Linked DNA regions of Homo sapiens. The protein of the gene in region 3 interacts with the protein of the main gene of each other region in a biochemical or structural test. Each region holds a gene or a part of one and is shown on either strand. Other genes may lie near its edges.

Region 1 (7,139 bases), on a different chromosome or scaffold from region 3:
TGTTTTAGAGGTTTTGTTGTAGATCTCAGTTGTGTGTTTTTAAGCCCAGAAGTCTTTATTATTACTGATAAACTCCATCTTGAGATTCAAGCAACCTGCCTCTCTACTTGCCTGTTCGAACCTGGAGAGGGCTCCTCCCGACCATTACTTGCCTTGAGGTTATACCGTGGGGTTAACATTTTGTCTTGGTGGTCTCCCTGCACCCTGTCCACACCTTTGAAAATACCCTCATTATGACTCAGTTTGAGAGTGCTAGGACCCTGATGATATAATCTTGCATCCATTTTAAGACACTGATCATTTTTAGCACCTGGTGGAGAGTTCCGTGAAGGGAAAGGACCTTCGAAGCAAGCAGCCTTGCCTGGGAATCTTGGCCCCAACACTCAAAAGATCTCAAAGAACAACACAACCACACTCTCTACATGCCCCCGAAAATTGTAAGATACCCTTCTGCACCAGGTGTGTTTCAATGAGTCCAGTGAAATAAAGGAGAAAAGGAATCAATAGGAGGAGATGGAAAATGTTTAATGAAGACAGGAATTAGTATTCACATACCCGCTCCTTCTGGAGATTTTCCAGGACATTTTCTCTGATCTGCAGTAGCTGCACTTCTGGGAGGGCACCTGTGCTGAGGTCCATGTCTAGCTTGGTCCAGACAATGTAGAACTTCTTTCCCATGTCCTCAGCGGTTTTGGCAAGCATCACATGATTCATGCTGAATTGTGCAGATGCAACCATGATGAAGTCATACCGGTTGAACTGCATTTCCATCAGGTAGTTCTCCAGGGTTGTGGTGGCAGACCCTGTGCCAGGCAGGTCCCACAACACCACATTTGAAAAGTGGGAAGAGAAATAGGAGGCACATCTTTGGGTAGCTTTTACCAGCTCAGTAGGAGGTGAGGCCTTACCCTCATGTCCTGTGTTTCGAAGGGCACTGATGAAGGTGGACATCCCATTGCCAGAGTCCCCTGCCATAGTGATGTTAACTGGTGTCCTGGACACTATCTTCAGAGTCTCCTTGATGTTAGAGATCACCTCTGGCAAGTTCCCATCTGCTGAGGCTTTCTCAACATTCATGGCTTCCATCTTCAATAAAATACCCCAATGCTGGCCAGGCGCCGTGGCTCATGCCTGTAATCCCAGCACTTTGGAAGGCCGAGGCGAGCAGATCACGAGGTCAGGAGATTGAGACCATCCTGGCCAACATCGTGAAACCTTCTCTACTAAAATACAAAAAAATTAGCTGCGCGTGGTGGTGTGCGCCTGTAGTCCCAGCTAATACAGGAGGCTGAGGCAGGGGAATCGCTTGAACCCTGGACGCAGATATTGCAGTGAGCTGAGATCACGCCATTGCACTCCAGCCTGGCAACAGAGCAAGACTCCATCTCAAAACAAACAAAACCCAATGCTTATGGTGTGGCAAAAAGAGGTTAAGGATGCAGCTAATAGAGTGTGAGGGGCACTTGGGACACTCTGTCGTATCTGTGGGCACTGGAGTAAGCTGCGGAAGTAGAAGAGCAGGTGAGTTAGGATGGACAGGGTACACATGAATCATCTGACTTTTAGCATCCCCAGCCCTCAACGAAGACTGCAGCAGACGATCTTGACTGAGTGTTCTTTGATTGTTTTTATTCAAGCAATGTGCACATTTCTTCAGGGAGCAAGAAAGGTAGGGTCCCTGAGGAACGCCCTGAGGCCGGTTGTGCCTCCGAGTCAGCCTCCAAAGCAGGCATGTGGCCATGAGATGGCTTGAAAAGCAGAGAATGAACCAAGTCTCCTGAAAAGCCCAAGAGGTTTTTGTCTTTCCCTCTTTTACTCTATCCTAATATAGGTCTGCTCCTTCACAAGTTTCAGTACATATTTCAAGACCAAAACCAGACAAGTAAAAGTGACCTATATATTTCTCTGCTGAAGATGGCGCCAGAGGACATAAAACATCCAATTCCCATTGCTTACTTGAAGCTGTGATCATCCCTGTTTAACACTTACCTCATCAGGCGGGGGAGCACACGTGCAGAGCAGTACTGAAATGCTGCAATATACGTGAAGTAAGCCACCAGCCTTTGACCCCCGAGCTTCCATTAAGACTGTCATGTTGGGCCCAACTGAAGTGAGGGAGAGGAGGAGACAGCATACTCAAATGCTCTGCTCTTTTTCAAGGCAGTGATTAGACAATTGCTTATCATTGCATTCGCCAAACCTGGCTCTTGCAGGTTCCACAAGGGGCCAGGTATTTGAGACTGATTAAAAGAAGGTGATGTGATTTCCTACTCCTACCGGAATTGGTGGGTTCTTCGTCTCACTGACTTCAAGAATGAAGCCACGGACCCTCGCGGTGAGTGTTACAATTCTTAAAGGCTGCGTGTCCGGAGTTTGTTCCTTCTGATGTTTGGATGTGTTCAGAGTTTCTTCCTTCCGGTGGGTTCGTGGTTTCACTGACTCAGGAGCGAAGCTGCAGACCTTCGAAGTGAGAGTTACAGCTCTTCAGGCGGCGAGTCTGGAGTTGTTCGTTTCTCCCCGGGGGGTTCGTTGTTTCACAGGTTTCAGGAGTGATGCTGCAGACCTTCACGGTGAGTGTTACAGCTCATAAAGGCAGTGTGGACCCAAAGAATGAGCAGCAGCAAGATTTACTGCAAAGTGCAAAAAAACAAAGCTTCCACAGCATGGAAGGGGACCTGAGCAGGTTACCACTGCTGGTTCGGGCAGCCTGCTTTTATTCTCTTATCTGGCCCACCCACATCCTGCTGATTGGTCCATTTTACAGAGAGCCGATTGGTCTGTTTTACAGAGAGCTGATTGGTCCATTTTGACAGGGTGCTGATTGGTGTGTTTACAATCCCTGAGCTAGACACAAAAGTTCTCCACCTCCCCACTAGATTAGCTAGATACAGAGTATAGATTGGTGCATTTGCAAACCTTGAGCTAGACACAGGGTGCTGATTGGTGTGTTTACAAACCTTGAGCTAGATATAGAGTGCCAATTGGTGCATTCACAATCCCTTAGCTAGACATAAAGATTCTCCAAGTCCCCACCAGATTAGCTAGGCTCAGAGTGCTGATTGGTGCATCCACAAACCCTGAGCTAGACACAGGGTGCTGATTGGTGCATTTACAATTCCTGAGCTAGACACAAAAGTTCTCCATGTCCCCACTAGATTAGCTAGATACAGAGGGTCGATTGGTGTGTTCGCAAACCCTGAGCTAGACACAGGGTGCTGATTGGTGTGTTTACAAACCTTGAGCTAGATACAGAGTGCTGATTGGTGTATTTACAATCCCTTAGCTAGACATAAATGTTGTCCAAGTCCCCACCAGACTCAGGAGCCCAGCTGGCTTCACCCAGTGGATCCTGCACCAGGCCGCAGGTGAAGCTGCCTGGCAGTCCCCGGCCATGCGCCTGCACTCTTCAGCCCTTGGGCAGTGGATGGGACTGGGCGCCGTGGAGCAGGGAGCGGCGCTCATAGGGGAGGCTCGGGCTGTGCAGGAGCCCACGGAGTGGGGCAGGGGAGAGAGGCTCAGGCATGGCGGGCTGCAGGTCCCAAGCCCTGCCCTGCGGGGAGGCAGCTAAGGCCGGGGAGAAATCCAGCACAGCAGCTGCTGGCCCAGGTGCTAAGCCCCTCACTGCCAGGGGCCATCGGGGCCGGATGGCTGCTCTGAGCGCGGGCCCGCTGAGCCCACGCCCACCCGGAACTCGTGCTGGCCCGCAAGCGACGCCCGCAGCCCCAGTTGCTGCCCGTGCCTCTCCCTCCACACCTCCCCACAAGCTGAGGGAGCCAGCTCCGGCCTTGGCCAGCCCAGAAAGGGGCTCCCACAGTGCAGCGGCGGGCTGAAGGGCTCCTCAAGTGCCACTAGAGTGGGCGCCAAGGCTGAGGAGGCTCCGAGAGCCAGCGAGGGCTGCGAGGGCTGCCAGCATGCTGTCACCTCTCACTAGCATGGCCTGGCAGGTCTGTTTCACACACTCATTGTGAACACACACAACACTGCACACAGCCACTCATACCTGGTGTGCACACTCACCCATGCCCAGCCATGTTTACTTACCCCCCCACACACACACTCTCACTCACCCTCGGCATGCACACATACACTTACTTGCATTCTGTGCACAGGCCCACACATACTCACACTGACACACGTTCACACACCCTAACATACTTAAGCTGACATGTGTAAACATGAATACATACATCCCTGTTGCACACACTACACTTGCTCACTCAGGCTGCAACATGTTCACTTACCCCACACACAAACACACAAATTCACTCGTGGTGCCACGTTCACACAAACTTATGTTTGATGCACACATGCTCACACACTCTGTGCACATATATATACACTCATGTAGGCTGACACATGTTCACTCACCTACCCTCATGCTTCGTGTGCCCAGTGCCCACACACTCTCTCACATGACACATGTTCGTACACTCATGCACACACAGAATCTTGCCTCCTGAGTGCCCAGGACAATGGATTTGTCCAAGTCTTTGGCCCTTTTAGAGGGCCCAGGAAGCAGAGAACTGGCTCCAGCTGTCTATCTATGAAATATGAAGAAAGGCCCTAATGGAGGAGATGGATGAGAGAGGCCCTGTTCTCTGGAATGTATATGAGTCTTCAATTTCTCGGTGCCTCACTTGTCTTGGGAAGATTTTATAACCCACCATATGGCGAGAGCAGCAACTGATCATTGACTTCCTCATGCCAGGCTTCATCTGTGGCTGCTATATAAAGTTTCTCCGTTGTAACATTAATTATTTTGGTTTACATAAATAACTAGTTTCTTCTCATCAAATGCTACTTAGATATGGTGGCTTTTAGTTAGTCTGCAAAGAGGAAGAGGTAACCTATGGAATCTGGAGGGAAGGAGGCAGGGTAATTACCAGGTTCGAATGGAGTCCCTCAGCAGCCTAGCAGGAGAATGGAGTGGGGAGGTCTGGCCTTAGGAGTTTTGCCCACATGTCTCTGCATGGATAGCTGGCAGGCTGGTTAAGGTGAGGAATCGAGCACTCCCCTTCCCCACAACATTATACCGGATAGATGCACAAGGGAGTGGAGCAGGAGCACATGCAGGGTAGGGGATGGGCTTGGGCCTGTGGCAGGCCCATTTTCTAACCCAAGTAGTCCCAGAAACTATTGCTTCATCAGGTATTAAATGATTGGCATCATATTAATACATACACAGGTCTTGGCATTAACCATTAAACATTTCCATTAAACTCTTTACCATTGTACTCCTTGTGCCCAGCAGGTGTTAAACATATTTTTGTTTGATTAATAAAACATAGTACACTTTGTGTGTTGTTAACTTACTAATTGACAGATAAGTTAACTTCCCTTTCTAAACTGTACCCGCTGAGCACGGGGTCTACTAATATACATCCAATTTTCAAGCACACTCTGCTTGGGTACGACACGGGCCAGTGCAGGGTACTGACTGTCCATGGTGAGTGTGGGAGGTCAGCAGAAAACCCTATAGTTTTCCAGGCTTTTTCTGTGACCATGTCTGTGAACTGAGCCAGCATCTTCAAACCTGTCTGCTTACCTGTCCACCAGTGCTGAGCCCCATGGGAAACAGCCTTAGCCCCTGCAGCCCCAGCTCAACTGTCCCATCCCCAGGCCTTGTTCATATGATCCGCTTCTCCTGGGCCCATGGTGAAGGCTCACCAGCTGCACGCTAGAGACAACCGAGCCGAAAATAATTATTTGTACAATTGAGATACTTTATCTCAGTTACACCAGGACTCTTCTGTGCTATGCCTGCCCAGGCCCCTGTGTCACTGCCAGGCCAGTGAGGGTATGGTTTCCTCTGCATGAGGTTGGTGTGTCTTCCAGGTGTTGTTAGTGTGCCTATGTGTTTGTGTGGGTGAGCCTCCAGGAGCACTGACCTGGAAGTTTAGAAGAGGTCATCAGAATTCAGCCTGGGTTACAATTGCTCCAAGCTCAGCTCTTTGAATATCTTGCCCAGATATATTGCCAGATACCTTCCTCCAGACAGGGGCAGAGGAGTCCTTTTGGAAGAGGAGGAGGAGGCCCTTCTAAAGGGAGTCGTGGAACCAGGTTCAATTACAGAGTGGCAGCCATACAAAAAAAAAAAGAACCAGATCCTAGAAGGAGCATATTCCTAAATTTACTAAGTGAGCATATAGGAACCAAGTACACATGCACACAAATACCTGCACACAGGTGAATGTGAGGTATTACAGAACAATTTGCCTTAAATACACCCTATAACTCCTATTCCATTCTATGAATGTTTTTCATCTGTTTGTTTTTTAATGCTGGTCATAATCCAATGAATTAATTTCATGAGTAAAACATGCAGAATGAAGAACACAGATTAATAGATTTCCCATGTGAGGTTATATATAGTTAATTCCATGCCAATTATCTTGATCCCCAAACAAAGGTACTTATAGCAAAGTAAGACCTGGCCTTAGCACAGATGTGGAGGCTGGTGCATCAGAGAACTCCATGTGCCCGGAAAACAATGTGGATCAAATCCCAGGCTTTTCCTCTGTTTGATCATTATCAGAAAAGGCTGCGGGAAAAATCAATGTGATAATTCATGTAGAATAATGAAACTGGATCCTCAGCTCTCATCTTACACAAAAATAAACTCGGCCAGGTGCGGTGGCTCATGCCTGTAATCGCAGCACTTTGGGAGGCTGAGGCGGGCGGGTCATGAGCCCAAGAGATTGAGACCATCCTGGCCAACATGGTGAAACCCTGTCTCTACTAAAAATACAAAAAATTAGCTGGGCATGGTGGTGCGTGCCTGTAGTCCTAGCTACTCAGGAGGCCGAGGCAGGAGAATTGCTTGAATCTGGGAGGCAAAGGTTGCAGTGAGCCGAGATCGCGCCACTGCACTCCCGCCTGGTGACAGAGCGAGACTCCGTCTCAAAAAGAATAATAATAATAAAATAAACTCAAGATAGATCAAAGACTGAAATCTAACTTGAAACCATAAAAATTCTAGAAGATAACATTCGAAAAATTCTTCTAGACATTGACATAGGCAAAGAATTCATGACTAAGATCCCAAAGCAAATGCAACAAAAACAAAAATAAATAAATGGGACCTAATTAAACTAAAAAGCTTCTGCACAGCAAAAGAAATAATCAGCAGAGTAAACAGA
Region 2 (7,032 bases), on a different chromosome or scaffold from region 3:
AGCATTAACATCAACACAGACCTTAAGTCTGATAAGAAACAATTACCATCTAGTCTCTCTGAAGCCTGCTACCTGGAGGCTTCATCTTCATGATAAAACTTTGGTCTCCACAACTCCTTATGTAACCCAGACATTCCTTTCTATTGATAACAGCTCATTCAACCAATTGCCAATCAGAAAATTGTAAAATCTACCTATGACCCGGAAGCACCTCCCCGTCCCACTTTTAGTTGTCCTGCCTTTCCAGATTGAGCCAATGTAAATCTCACATGTATTGATTGATGTCTTACGTCTCCCTAAAATGTATAAAAGCAAGTTGTACCCCATCCACCTTGGGCCCATGTCATCAGGATCTCCTGAGTCTGTGTCACTGGCACATCCTTAACCTTGGCAAAATAAACTTTCTAAACTGATTGAAATCTGTCTCAGATACTTTTGGGTTCAAAACTCTCAGCTCCTGTCTTCTTCACATCTTCCATCATGTTGTCATTGATTTGTCATTTGCGTAATTCCTTGTTCAATGTTTATCTCCCCAACCCACCCTCTGCCATAAGCTAAGCTCCATGAAGTCATGTCTGTCTTATACCTCCATGTGTTTCTAGTGACCAGCACCTAGTGGACACTCAATATATGTTTCAAGAAAAGCCTAAGATAGGCTGGGCACGGAGGCTCACACCTGCAATCCCAGCACTTTGGGAGGCCAAGGCAGGCAGATCACAAGGTCAGGAGATCGAGATCATCCTGGCTAACATGGTGAAACCCCATCTCTACTAAAATTACAAAAAATTAGCTGGGCGTGGTGGCGGGCACCTGTAGTCCCAGCTACTCGGGAGGCTGAGGCAGGAGAATTGCTTGAACCCAGGAGGCAGAGGTTGCAGTGAGCCGAGATCACACCACTGCACTCCAGCCTGGGTGACAGAGCAAGACTCCGTCTCAAAAAAAAAAAAAAAAAAAAAAGGCCTAAGATGAAACATGGAGCCAAGACAAGGAAGTCATAAGGTGAACAATGGAAAGGAAAGATGTGTGTGTGGTCCAAAGGACACATCTCTTTCTCGCTAAACCAGTTTGATTTTTATTTTCTTTCACTTGAAGCTGAAAAGGTCCTGAATGAGACAATTCAGATATGAGACAATTTATCTTAAAGAAGTAATAGCAGCCCAATTGCCACTTCTCCCAAAGTTATAGTGCCAGGTTAAGCTATTTCTTCTGACTCCTTGACTCAGTTAACTGTGAAACAGTTGCCAAGGGGGCTTACCCAGCCTCTCTGTTGGTAACATTGGAGGATATATATATATATATATATATATATATATATATATATATTTTTTTTTTTTTTTGCCATAGGAAGGGAGCAAAATAAAATCTTCAGGACAAAGGAGACACAGCAGCTGACTATGAAAACAACACCCCAGTACATCTATGATCTGTGGCCAGACTTGCTAAGGACTCCCAAGGAAGCGGTAGCTTCTCAGACACCATCTGACAGTGGGTTGCTCATATCTTTCAGGTGAAGTGTACAAGCCACTCTAGTGTCCATGGAGCCAGTCATGGAACTGTCTTTGCAGAAATTGTAACAGGGAGAAAATGATGACGTCAGTGAAAGAGATTTGATCTAACCAACCCCCAGCTTGCCTTTAACCTCCAAACTGCCCTTACGCTTTCCTGGGCTCGGGCCAAGTTAACTTTGTGACAAATTTAGTGTTTATTTTATTTTATTTCATTTTATTTTGAGATGGAGTCTTGCTCTGTCACCCAGGCTGGAGTGCAGTGGCATGATCTCGGCTCACTGCAACCTCCGCCTCCCTGGTTCAAGTGATCCTCACATGCCAGCACACCCAACTAATTTTTGTATTTTTAGTACAGACAGGGTTTCACCATGTTGGCCAGGATGGTCTCGATCTCCCGATCTCGTGATCCACCCACCTCGGCCTCCCAAAGTGCTGGGAATACAGGGGTGAGCCACTGCGCCCGGCCTAGTGTACATTTTAAATGATAATAGCCCTTGCCCAAAACTAAACTACCTTCATAAAGCTAATGAGGGACCATGAGGTTAGGAGGATGAGAGGAGCCTGAATTCTGCTAAGGTGTAGACATAAAGGATTACCAGCCATTATTCCAGAGGTCACAAGATTTGCAACTTTCCCAATGACCCCCGCAGATAAGATCACTATTGTAGACTGGCCTTTTGAGATGTCTCTTCAGGTTTTTTTGCATTTCTCGTAACCAATGGCTCCACCCCGACCAGACCGCCAACCTAACTTTGAAAGAAATTTGTTGTATATTTTAAATTATGACAGCCCTTTCCCAAAACTAAACTGCCTTTGTAAAACTAATGAAATATTGCCAAGTTAGGAGAATGAAAGGAGCCTGAATTCTGCTAAGATGTAGACATGGATTATTATCAGCCTTTATCCCAGAGCTCACAACACTTCCAACTTCCTAAGTTACTCCTACAGATAACATCACTACTGTAGAACTTGAGATTGGCCTTTTGAGATGTCTTTTCAGGCTTTTGCCTTCCTGACAACCAGACTGCCCCACCTGGACCTGCCAACTAGTCCTGTGGCCCCACCCAGAAGTGGACTCAGTGCACGAGGACCATTTTTCACACCCCTATTACTGCATCCCCAACCAGTCAGCAGCACCCATTCCCTAGCCACCCTACTCCTTGCCAAACTATCTTTGAAAAGCCCTAGCTTCCAAATTTTCAGGGAGGCTGATTTGAGTCATAAAAAAACTCTGTTCTCCCATTTAGCTGGCTCTATGTGTGTAAAACTCTTTCCCTATTGCAATTCTCCCATCTTGATAAATCGGCTCTGTCTGGGCAGCAGGCACAAAGAAGCCACTGGGCAGTTACAGTCTCATCATGTAGTTTAGTAAATTGGCCCAGATGTAATAAAATAGGGAGTGGTGAGGACGGTGACAAATAGAAAATCCATGTCCTGTCTAAAGGGGGCATTAACTATTCAACTGTTCTCAATTGTTGCCTTCTAGCCCCAGATTTTTAAAATACTAGAACTAATTCCCTCCCTCCCTCCTTCTGTCCCTCCTTCCCTTCCTCCCTTCCTTCCTTCCTGCTTTCCGTCTTTCTTTCTTCTTTCTTTCTTCTTCCTTTCCCTTTCCCTTTTTCTTCCTTTCCTTCCTTCCTTCCTTCCTTCCTTCCTTCCTTCCTTCCTTCCTCCCTCCCTTCCTTCATTCCTTCTCTCTCTCTCTCTTTCTTTTTTATCACTCTGTCACCCAGGCTGGAGTGCAGTGGCTCAATCTCTGACCACCTTGCTCACTGCAACCTCTGCCTCCAGGGTTCAAGTGATCCTCCCATCTCAGCCTCCTGAGTAGCTGGAACTACAGGCACACACCACCATGCCCAGCTAATTTTTCATGTTTTTGATAGAGATGGGGTTTCACCATGTTGCCCAGACTGGTCTTAAACTCCTGAGCTCAAGTGATCTACCTGCCTCGGCCTCCCAGAGTGCTGGGATGACAGGTGTCAGACACGAGGCCTGGCCTCTTTCTTTTTTGTTTTTAGTACAAGGACCAAACAAAACATATCTGCAAGGCAGATCCAATCAACCAGACTTCACTTTGGGACTCTGTTTTAGTATTTCAATTTTTGGAGAAAAAGGAAAACATACTTGACCCCGCGTTTGATGGAGCAAGCTGTATGGTAGCTTTCAAGGCAAAATCTTACTTACCAGCCATCAACACTGGCTTTCTGAAGTTCAGAAATCCCAAAGGACAAAGATCCCATGAAGTCATTCCTGCTGGTCAAATCCCAATCCCAAATCTCTACTGACAGTCTTCTGTCTTTGTCCGATTCTTTCAGCTGACTGCATAGAGAAAAAGAAAAGACATCAGTGGAGGTTGTAGTAATTTCTCAAGCAGAATAAATGTACAAGAGGACAAGACCTGGAGGTAGAAAGTTTTAAAGATTACAAGCTGCTGAAAGAAACATATTCAGTTTCCATCCCAGGCTAGCTCTCCAGGGAGTGAGAGCTTTTTCTGTTTGACAGCCTGTGGCTTAAACAGGCAGAGGTCTTAGACTGGCTATGACAAGAACAGTTCTAACTACTTTTGTTATCTTATGTCTTAATAGGGTTCAGGATATTCAGGAATTCCTATTGCCTATAAGAAATACAGATATCAATTGCATAATTGGGTGTGTACATGTGTATATCTGCACACAGGTGGGTTGAGAATGAGGCTGAGGAAATGCATGGAGAAAAATCCTGGGGAAATTGTCTGTTCTGAGACATGTCCTTGACTGAGGCTGAGAAGGGGCCCAGCTTTGCCCTGAGAGAGGGAAGAGGAGACAGGACAAGGAACTGTGCTTCTAGCTGGTGGCTAAAAAAGTATGACCGCTAAAGTCAGACTGCCAGAAGCTGAATCCCACTCCACCCCATATTTGCTATGGGACTTTGGGCATACTCTTTAACCTCTATAAGCCCTATTGCTACATTGGGAATAAAATGAGCCGATGAAGTCGGATCGCTTAACCCAGTGTTTGTCACACATCATATATGCTCAGTGAATTGGCTGTTATAACCAACTCCTGATGCCTAGATGTACAAGAAAGAGACTCCCAGATTCTTGGAGCCCTGGCCAGGGAAGACCCTCAAGGGAGGCTGGTGGAGATGTCCCAGAAGGCTGCAGGCCAAGCATCATCCATAAACCCAACTCTAGAGAGGCTGTCACCACACCCTGTAGGTTATGTTCCCCTATTTGCTGAGCCCCATCATTTCTCCCACAACTTGCCTTCACTTAGCAACACATCACACCATTTCCTGTCCTACCCACTCCCCCACACCACAGGCATTCTCATCTCTATTAAAAAAATAGCTCTAATTTTTTTTCTTGGCTCACAATACAAAATTGCAGATGGAAAAGAAGGGAGGGAAAGATAGGAGTGAGGGATGGAGAAGACAGAAAAGGAGGGAGGTAGGGAAGGAAGGAAACAGGAGCTAAGGGAGGAGGAACTCCCTGATTTCAGGTGGCACATAACCCAACCTCCACCACCCATGCTCACTGCAGTCATTTCCACTTACAATCTAAATGTCTCATTCCACTCAGGGTTGAGGGAGCATTTGATGGTTTTGGTCTTCTGTTTGCTCTCACTTTTGGGATCGGGAATCAGTTTCAGTTTTACGTAGGGATCTGACAGGCCATTGGGGTCCATAGGTACAAGGTTTTTAGCATCTCTTACTGAAAAAGAAAAAGCAGTTTTTGCATTAATACTGTCCAACATGTTTAAGCACCAAGCAGTGACAGCTGCAGAACTTGTGGAAGGTTCTTTGGCATCACACTTGTTTAGTGAGAAATTTAATTTTATTAACATCCATAGCTGAAGCAGTGCACAAAATGAGATGGGCTGATAAGATGTCAACTCTGGTCTGTGTTGGTTAAAAATGGATTTCTGACTTTTACACTGCTCTTCCCATACCAAGATTAACTGTAAGTTTTCTAAGCTTATTTTCCACAAAGCCCACAGGAAAGGCTGGCTTCTTTCATTTAGCATAACGTTTTCAAAGTTCACCACATTATAGCATGTATCAGCACTTCATTTTTTTGCATGACTGAATAATATTCCATTGTATAGATATCCCACATTTTGTTTATCCATTCAGCAGTTGATGCATAGTTGGGTTGTTTCCACTTTTTGGCTGTTGTGAATACTGCTGCTATGAACATTTGTGTACCCCAACACAAAAGGTCACATATTGTATGATTCCATTTACATGAAACATCCCAAACAGGTAAATCCATAGAGACAGAAAGTAGACTACTATTAATAGTTGCCAGAGGCTGGAGGGAAAGGGAAATGGGGAGTGACTGCTTAATGAGTACAGGGTTTCTTTTAGAGGTGATGAAAATTTCTGAGAACTAGATAGAGATGATGGTTGTCCAACACTGTGAATATTCTATAAATGTCACTGAATTGTACGTTTAAAAACAGTTAATGGTTAATTTTATGTTACGTTAATTTTACCTCCATTCAAAAAGAAAAAGCTAAAGAAAGGAAGAATTACCCTCTAAACCAAGGTACACCTATTATCCATGTATCACCCATAACCAGCACCCAGACAGCCCATAGAGAGAAGGCTGGAACAATGTCAGCAGCATTAGAGCTCAGCTCCACCCTGACTCCAGAACACCCAGGTAAAGAGGCTATAAGGCTAACATGGTGAAACCCTGTCTCTACTAACAATACAAAAAAATTAGCCAGGCATGGTGGCAGGTGCCTGTGGTCCCACCTACTTGGGAGGCCCAGGCAGGAGAATGGCATGAACCCAGGAGGCAGAGCTTGCAGTGAGCCAAGATCATGCCACTGCACTCCAGCCTGGGCGACAGAGTGAGACTCCGTCAAAAAAAAAAGATGAACTTACAGGAGAAAAGGAGGCAGGGAATCAGCAGTGAAGATGCAACTGGCTATAGAAAGGATGAGGGAGACTAAATCATCAGCTTGGAGAAACAGGAAGTAGTTAATTAGGAATCAATTCAGAAACCAGTAATGCAGGTAGTCAATGGAAGCAGACTAGAAAATGAGAATTGCACAGCTCTTAAGGATACAATGTCAATCATCTCACTTACAGTAGAACAATCCACAGTAATACATTCAATCCAAATCGACTCTAACTATCTGCTAAAAGGTGAATACATAATGACTCCTATCAGGAATGCAAAGATGGTTCAATCTTAGGAAATCTATTTTCAATATATTCATCATATTTATAGATCAAAGAAGAAAACCATAAGATCATTGTAGTTATCTAGAAACAGCAGAGAATTTTAACAGGATAAAGGCTATCTGAAATAACAGCACCATGGTTCATGATAAATGCAATTCCATTAAAGTAAGGAATAAGACAAAGATATCCATTACCATAGCCATTATTTAATACTTTTTTTTCTCGTGTTCCATAAGTGCAGTAAGAAATAAAGAGTTACCCTCTAAACCAAGATGCACCTATTATCCATGTATCACCCATAACCTGCACCCAGACAGCCCATAGGGAAAAGGCTGGAAAAATATCCACA
Region 3 (5,427 bases):
TCTCCTTATTTATTTTCACTTCAGTCTGCCTGCCTCAGTTGGCTGAATAGGGCTATTCACCTTCATCCAAATTGAATCATTTACATACTTAAAAGAACTTTTCTTGGCCAGGCATGGTGACTCACGCCTGTAATCCCAACACTGTGGGAGGCCGAGGCAAGTGGATCACTTGAGGTCAGGAGTTCAAGACCAGCCTGGCCAACATGGTGAAACCCCGACTCTACTAAAAATAAAAAAATTTAGCCGGGTGTGGTGGTGGGTGCCTGTACCCAGCTATGTGGGAGGCTGAGGCAGGAGAATCACTTGAACCTAGAAGGCAGAGGTTGCAGTGAGCCGAGATCACACCACTACACTCCAACCTGGGCAACAGAGTGAGACTCCATCTCAGAAAAAAAAATAATAATAATAACTTTTATCTTATTAAATCTATTTCTAGTAGATGTTTTACACATCCTATTGGAGTTCTTAAACAATAGTGTATTAGTCTGTTTTCACACTGCTATAAAGAACTGCCTGAGACTGGGTCATTTATAAAGAAAAGAGGCTTAATAGATTCACAGTTCCACATGGCTGAGGAGGCCTCAGGAAACTTACAATCATGGCAGAAGGGGAAGCAGGCAAGTCTTACATGGCAGCAGATGAGAGAGAGAGTGTGTGTAAAGGAGGAATTGTCAAACACTTATAAAACCATCAGATCTCATGAGAACTAACTCACTATCCCAAGAACAGCATGGGGACAACTGCCCCCGTGATCCAATCACCTCCCGTCAGGTCCCTCCCTTGACACATGGGGATTATAATTCAAGATGAGATTTGGGTGGGGACATATAGCCAAACCATATCAAATAGCAATTAAAAAAAATCACATAAGAAAAGACACTCTTAATAAAATACAAATAGAAAATGAAAAAAAACCAACTCATAAACTTGGTTTAAATAATCCATTTGTATTGGGTCTTAGTAAGAATACTACTACTAGTAACTATTATCAAGCAACTACTGTGTCATGTACTTTTCACACATTCTTTTAATTAAAAACTCTCCACTAACCCTTACAGTTCAGTATTATCCTTGTTTTACAGATGAAGAAAAGCCAAAGAGAAGTTATATAACTGGCAAGTTTCTCTGGCTCCCCGCCTGCACCACTGCTCACCAGATTGCATGAAGAGGGAGGCAGCTGTAACACCTCATCCCGTTGATCTCCAGGGAACTCAGATACTTGTTTCCACGTCCAGGAAACCGCAAACTAAGCTCTTTGAAGCATCAGCAAACCTTGCTAAGTGACACGTGAATGCCATTTGGATACATATTCTAATCTTTCAAGTAGAAAGGACAGTCAGACTGCCTCATCTGTAACATCCAAGGGATCTGAGAACAGACATTCAGTCCAGGTGTTGAACATCAACATCATTATAGGAAAATGGTCAAAGAGAACAATGGCACACGTTAAGAGAACATATTAATAGGGCAAGATGTATAGTAAACTAAGTTTTCAAGAAGTATTTTATCATTTTTATGCTCTCTACTAAAAGCTGACCACTGTAGAGTGGATACACATTGCTACATACAGCAACTCTACAGTGGACAGCTTTTAGTAGTAAGCATAAAAATGGCTTTATGTTCTCATGTTCTCTGTGTAGCCATACCACACGTTGCTACACCAGGAACATGAGTACATATAACCATTACATATACATACCTGTATGTATGTATATTAGTTACATATACATATGTACAGTATATACATGTATATATATTGAACCCTTGGAAGGGATCAGCAAAGAGGAGGACTCAATAAAAAAAGACTAGAATAGAACTAGAAGAGAGAGAAGCCCAGGGAGAGCTTCAAGAAGAGTGCTCAACAGGGCCAAATGCGCAGAGGTCAAATAGAAGGTTAAGAAGTGCCCAGTGGATTTGGCAACCAGAGTCACTGGTAACCTTCAAAAGAACAATTTCAGTAGATTGTTAAGGGCAAAAGCCAGTTTACAGTAGGTTAAGGAGACAAAGGGAGATAAAAATTCCCAACATTCCATTCATTCATCTATCCCAGTGTGTACAGAGTGATTACTGTGTGTTTGTTGGCAGTTGACTCTAAAAAGAAGGCTAGAAATGAGGCTTTTTAATTTTTCCCAAGTACTATGAGCTCTGTTGGCCTACAAAATACTCAGTGCTGTGATTCACTCATTTGTGCTTTGCATATATAATATAGTACAAACTGCTAAAGATATTTTTAAAAAATATATTTTCACAGGGGTACAAGCGATCCATGATTATACCCACTATGTTTGTTTCTTCTCCACTCAAAGTTACTCATTCCCTGTAGCTGAAGATTGAGGACCTGATATCATTTGGACATTTCTGCTGGATCAAATGGTATCTTCTCAAAATGAAAGTCCTTCCACTTCGAGTACAGTGTCTGAACTCCAGTTGCAATATCCTCCACCACAAAACTTTCAATTTTTATAACTGGAATCTCAAATGTCTTGTACTTCACATGGATTCCCCAGTCATGGCTGCAGTTCTGTCGGGCACAGAATATCTTTGCTCTTTTTTCAAAACTTGAAAACTGCTTTGGCTTGGGATGTGGTCTACTCACAAAGCATTCCTTAAAAGCATCTCCAAGCACAGTGTAATGGCATTCCTACAGATGAAGGGATGGAATAACACACAAAAGAGAACGTTAGAACCAGTACATAATTGTGATTTAAAAAAAAAAAAAAGAAAACCCCACAATAATCTGAGGCAAAGAACAGGTGGGTCTCACTTATTTTACAATTGGAGGAAAAAAAAAAATAGATTCACCCAAAGTCCAGAGGATCCATGCACCTGACTCCCCTCTACAGGCAGGGTGGGGTTGCAAGTGAGGACACTGGGCACCTCATAAAGAAGAAGATTAAGAAGGTTCCAGGTAACCCAGCTTCTGAAGGTAGATACTCATTATTCAAAAACAGAAGCGATGTTTGCTGAAAATTTGTGAAGCTGAAGTTCACCAGTGGCCCTGGCAGGCACAATCCAAAGGATACAGGGAAAACGACCAAGGTCAAGATGCAATTGAAGAAGGTCAGGGACTAATGTGTCCACAGGCCCCACCTAGAGTCAACTTTAGAGTAAACAGCTCAGAAACAAATGCAGATCCAACATACTAGTCCCTCAGGAAAACATAGGGTCTAAAAGGGCCATTTTTAGTAGAACAATCACCCAAATTGGAGCTGAAAGGACCTTTTACAGCTAAAGAAGCAGACTTAGAAAGGTAAGGGAACTTAGCAATATGACTCCTAATAGGCTTTTTGCCCAAACAGCTGAGCTGATGAGAGATTTCTGCTTTCTGAAGACGAACGGAACATCCTGAAGTAATAACTCCTCATCTGAGCCAGCCCAGCCCCTCCACTGTGCCCCCCATGCAAGAGTTATACCCCATATTTCTCTTTGGAGATTTTTCTAACCCTTTCTCTGAAAGTTTTAAGAAAGAAATATAAGGCTGCAATAGAAGGCTAATCTGCAGATGTCACATTTTACAAATAAGGAGATATTTTGTTTTCATTATAAAAGTGATCCATAGCCCAAAAGGAATGTTTGGAAAACATAAGGTAGTAGGAAAAGAGAAAAAAAGTCATGGAATCTCACCACCAAAATATTAATACATTTTGGTATAGTTCCCCTAGCCTTTGTTTTTCTGTAGCAAGGTAGGTTTTTTGACTTTTTCTCTTGACAATGACAATGAATGTATTTGCTGCTGTTGTTTCACACAGCTACAAAGTAGCATCTTTACAATTCTGTGTTCTGGTTACTTTTTTCCTTATTACCATTAGTTTGTAAGCAGTTTTTCATTATACTACATAAACTTCATAATTTTTTAAAATAAACTTTACTTTGGAACAATTTTAGATTTAAAGAAAAATTGCAAAGATATCCCAGAAAATTTCTGCATACCCTTTACCCAGTTTCCCCAAATGTTAACATCTCATATACCACAGCACATTTGTCAAAACCAAGATAATTAACATCAGTACATTACTATTATCTAAACTACAGATTTTACCACTCTTTCTCTAGTTGTATCCTTTATCTGTTCCAGGAGCTAATCCAGGACACGTCATTGCATTTAGCATGACTTTTTTTTTTTTTTTTTTGAGACAGAGTCTTGCTCTGTCACCCAGGCTGGAGCGCAGTGGCGCGATATCAGCTCACCGCAACCTCTGCCTCCCGGTTCAAGCGATTCTCCTGCCTCAGCCTCCCGAGTAACTAAGATTACAGCCACCTGCCACTACGCCCAGCTAACTTTTTTATTTTTAGTAGAGACGGGGTTTCACCATGTTGGCCGGGCTGGTCTCGAACTCCTGACCTCGTGATCGCCCACCTTGGCCTCCCAAAGTGTTTTGATTACAGGCATGAGCCACTATGCCTGGCCAAAAACTATTTCTTTATTATTGAACATTTAGTATTTTTTTTTCACTTCTTAGCTTTTTTTAAATACACAGATCATGGCCACAGTAACAATGGAAATAATAGTAGTTTTATTATAAATATTTCACCAACAGTAAGCTGTAGCTAGTGCTAAAACATGACCAGGCACTTTGTAAAAAGGCAGCTTACCTCTATCACTCTTACGTCAGCTGTGTAACATGCCAAGGCTTTGCACTTTCTGCAGAGCAGTTTTTTATTTTCCTTATCAGGTACAGGTTTTGGTTTTTCTTGACTATCTCTGATGAATTTTTCATGAGTCTGTATATGCAGAATCTAATGCAAAAAGAAAGACCGCAAATGTAATTTGAGTACAACATATATAGCAAGAAACAGGCACAGATACGTACAATACATATACATGCACGCACATGTATAATCATTCATATACAACTTCCATGAACATATGGTACCTGACTTTGTAAAATCACAGATTTTATTGGTTCTCCTAACTTAGTATTAGTCAATGCTTAATTGTGGCCTCCAATTAGTCTTTCAATTTCTTCATCAAAAATGCTCATAAAAGCACTAAAGATGTCCATAGAATAGTCATATGAACTATGCTTTCTACTTTAGTGTTTGGCAAAACTTGGGAAAAAAAACAAAACCTGTACCAGATATACAATATGCGCTGTTTCAGGCATAATTATATCCATTTGCAGGCACAAACTCAGTGAGTGATACAACAGGCAGAAGAGCCCCTGATATGGTTTGGCTGTGTCCTCACCCAAATCTCAACTTGAATTGTATCTTAACAGAATTCCCACGTGTTATGGGAGGGACCCAGGGGGAGGTAATTGAATCATGGGGGGCCAGTCTTTCCTGTGCTATTCTTATGATAGTGATTGTGTCTCACAAGACCTGATGGGTTTATCAGCGTTTCCACTTTTGCTTCTTCCTCATTTTTCTCTTGCCGCTGCCATGTAAGAAGTGCCTTCTGCCTCCCTCCGTGATTCTGAGGCCTCC

What was found. Proteins that work in one complex are often made in the same cells at the same time.
Region 1: the proteins of RIGI (region 3) and IRGM form a complex in vitro, tested with the Homo sapiens proteins (one study listed by BioGRID).
Region 2: of the proteins of RIGI (region 3) and PRKCB, one has a biochemical effect on the other in vitro, tested with the Homo sapiens proteins (one study listed by BioGRID).

What each region holds. Positions count from the first base shown.
Region 1 is NC_000005.10:150,842,071-150,849,209, reverse strand, and holds IRGM (immunity-related GTPase family M protein), read right to left. Parts: upstream 2,690-7,139; 5' UTR 1,990-2,689; intron 1,502-1,989; 5' UTR 1,087-1,501; coding exon 541-1,086; 3' UTR 508-540; downstream 1-507. UniProt on the Homo sapiens protein: Immunity-related GTPase that plays important roles in innate immunity and inflammatory response. Acts as a dynamin-like protein that binds to intracellular membranes and promotes remodeling and trafficking of those membranes.
Region 2 is NC_000016.10:24,090,958-24,097,989, reverse strand, and holds part of PRKCB (protein kinase C beta type), read right to left. Parts: intron 5,200-7,032; coding exon 5,043-5,199; intron 3,828-5,042; coding exon 3,693-3,827; intron 1-3,692. UniProt on the Homo sapiens protein: Calcium-activated, phospholipid- and diacylglycerol (DAG)-dependent serine/threonine-protein kinase involved in various cellular processes such as regulation of the B-cell receptor (BCR) signalosome, oxidative stress-induced apoptosis, androgen receptor-dependent transcription regulation, insulin signaling and endothelial cells proliferation.
Region 3 is NC_000009.12:32,454,778-32,460,204, forward strand, and holds the end of RIGI (antiviral innate immune response receptor RIG-I), read right to left. Parts: exon of another isoform or gene 4,738-5,427; coding exon 4,594-4,737; exon of another isoform or gene 4,265-4,593; intron 2,642-4,264; coding exon 2,345-2,641; 3' UTR 525-2,344; downstream 1-524.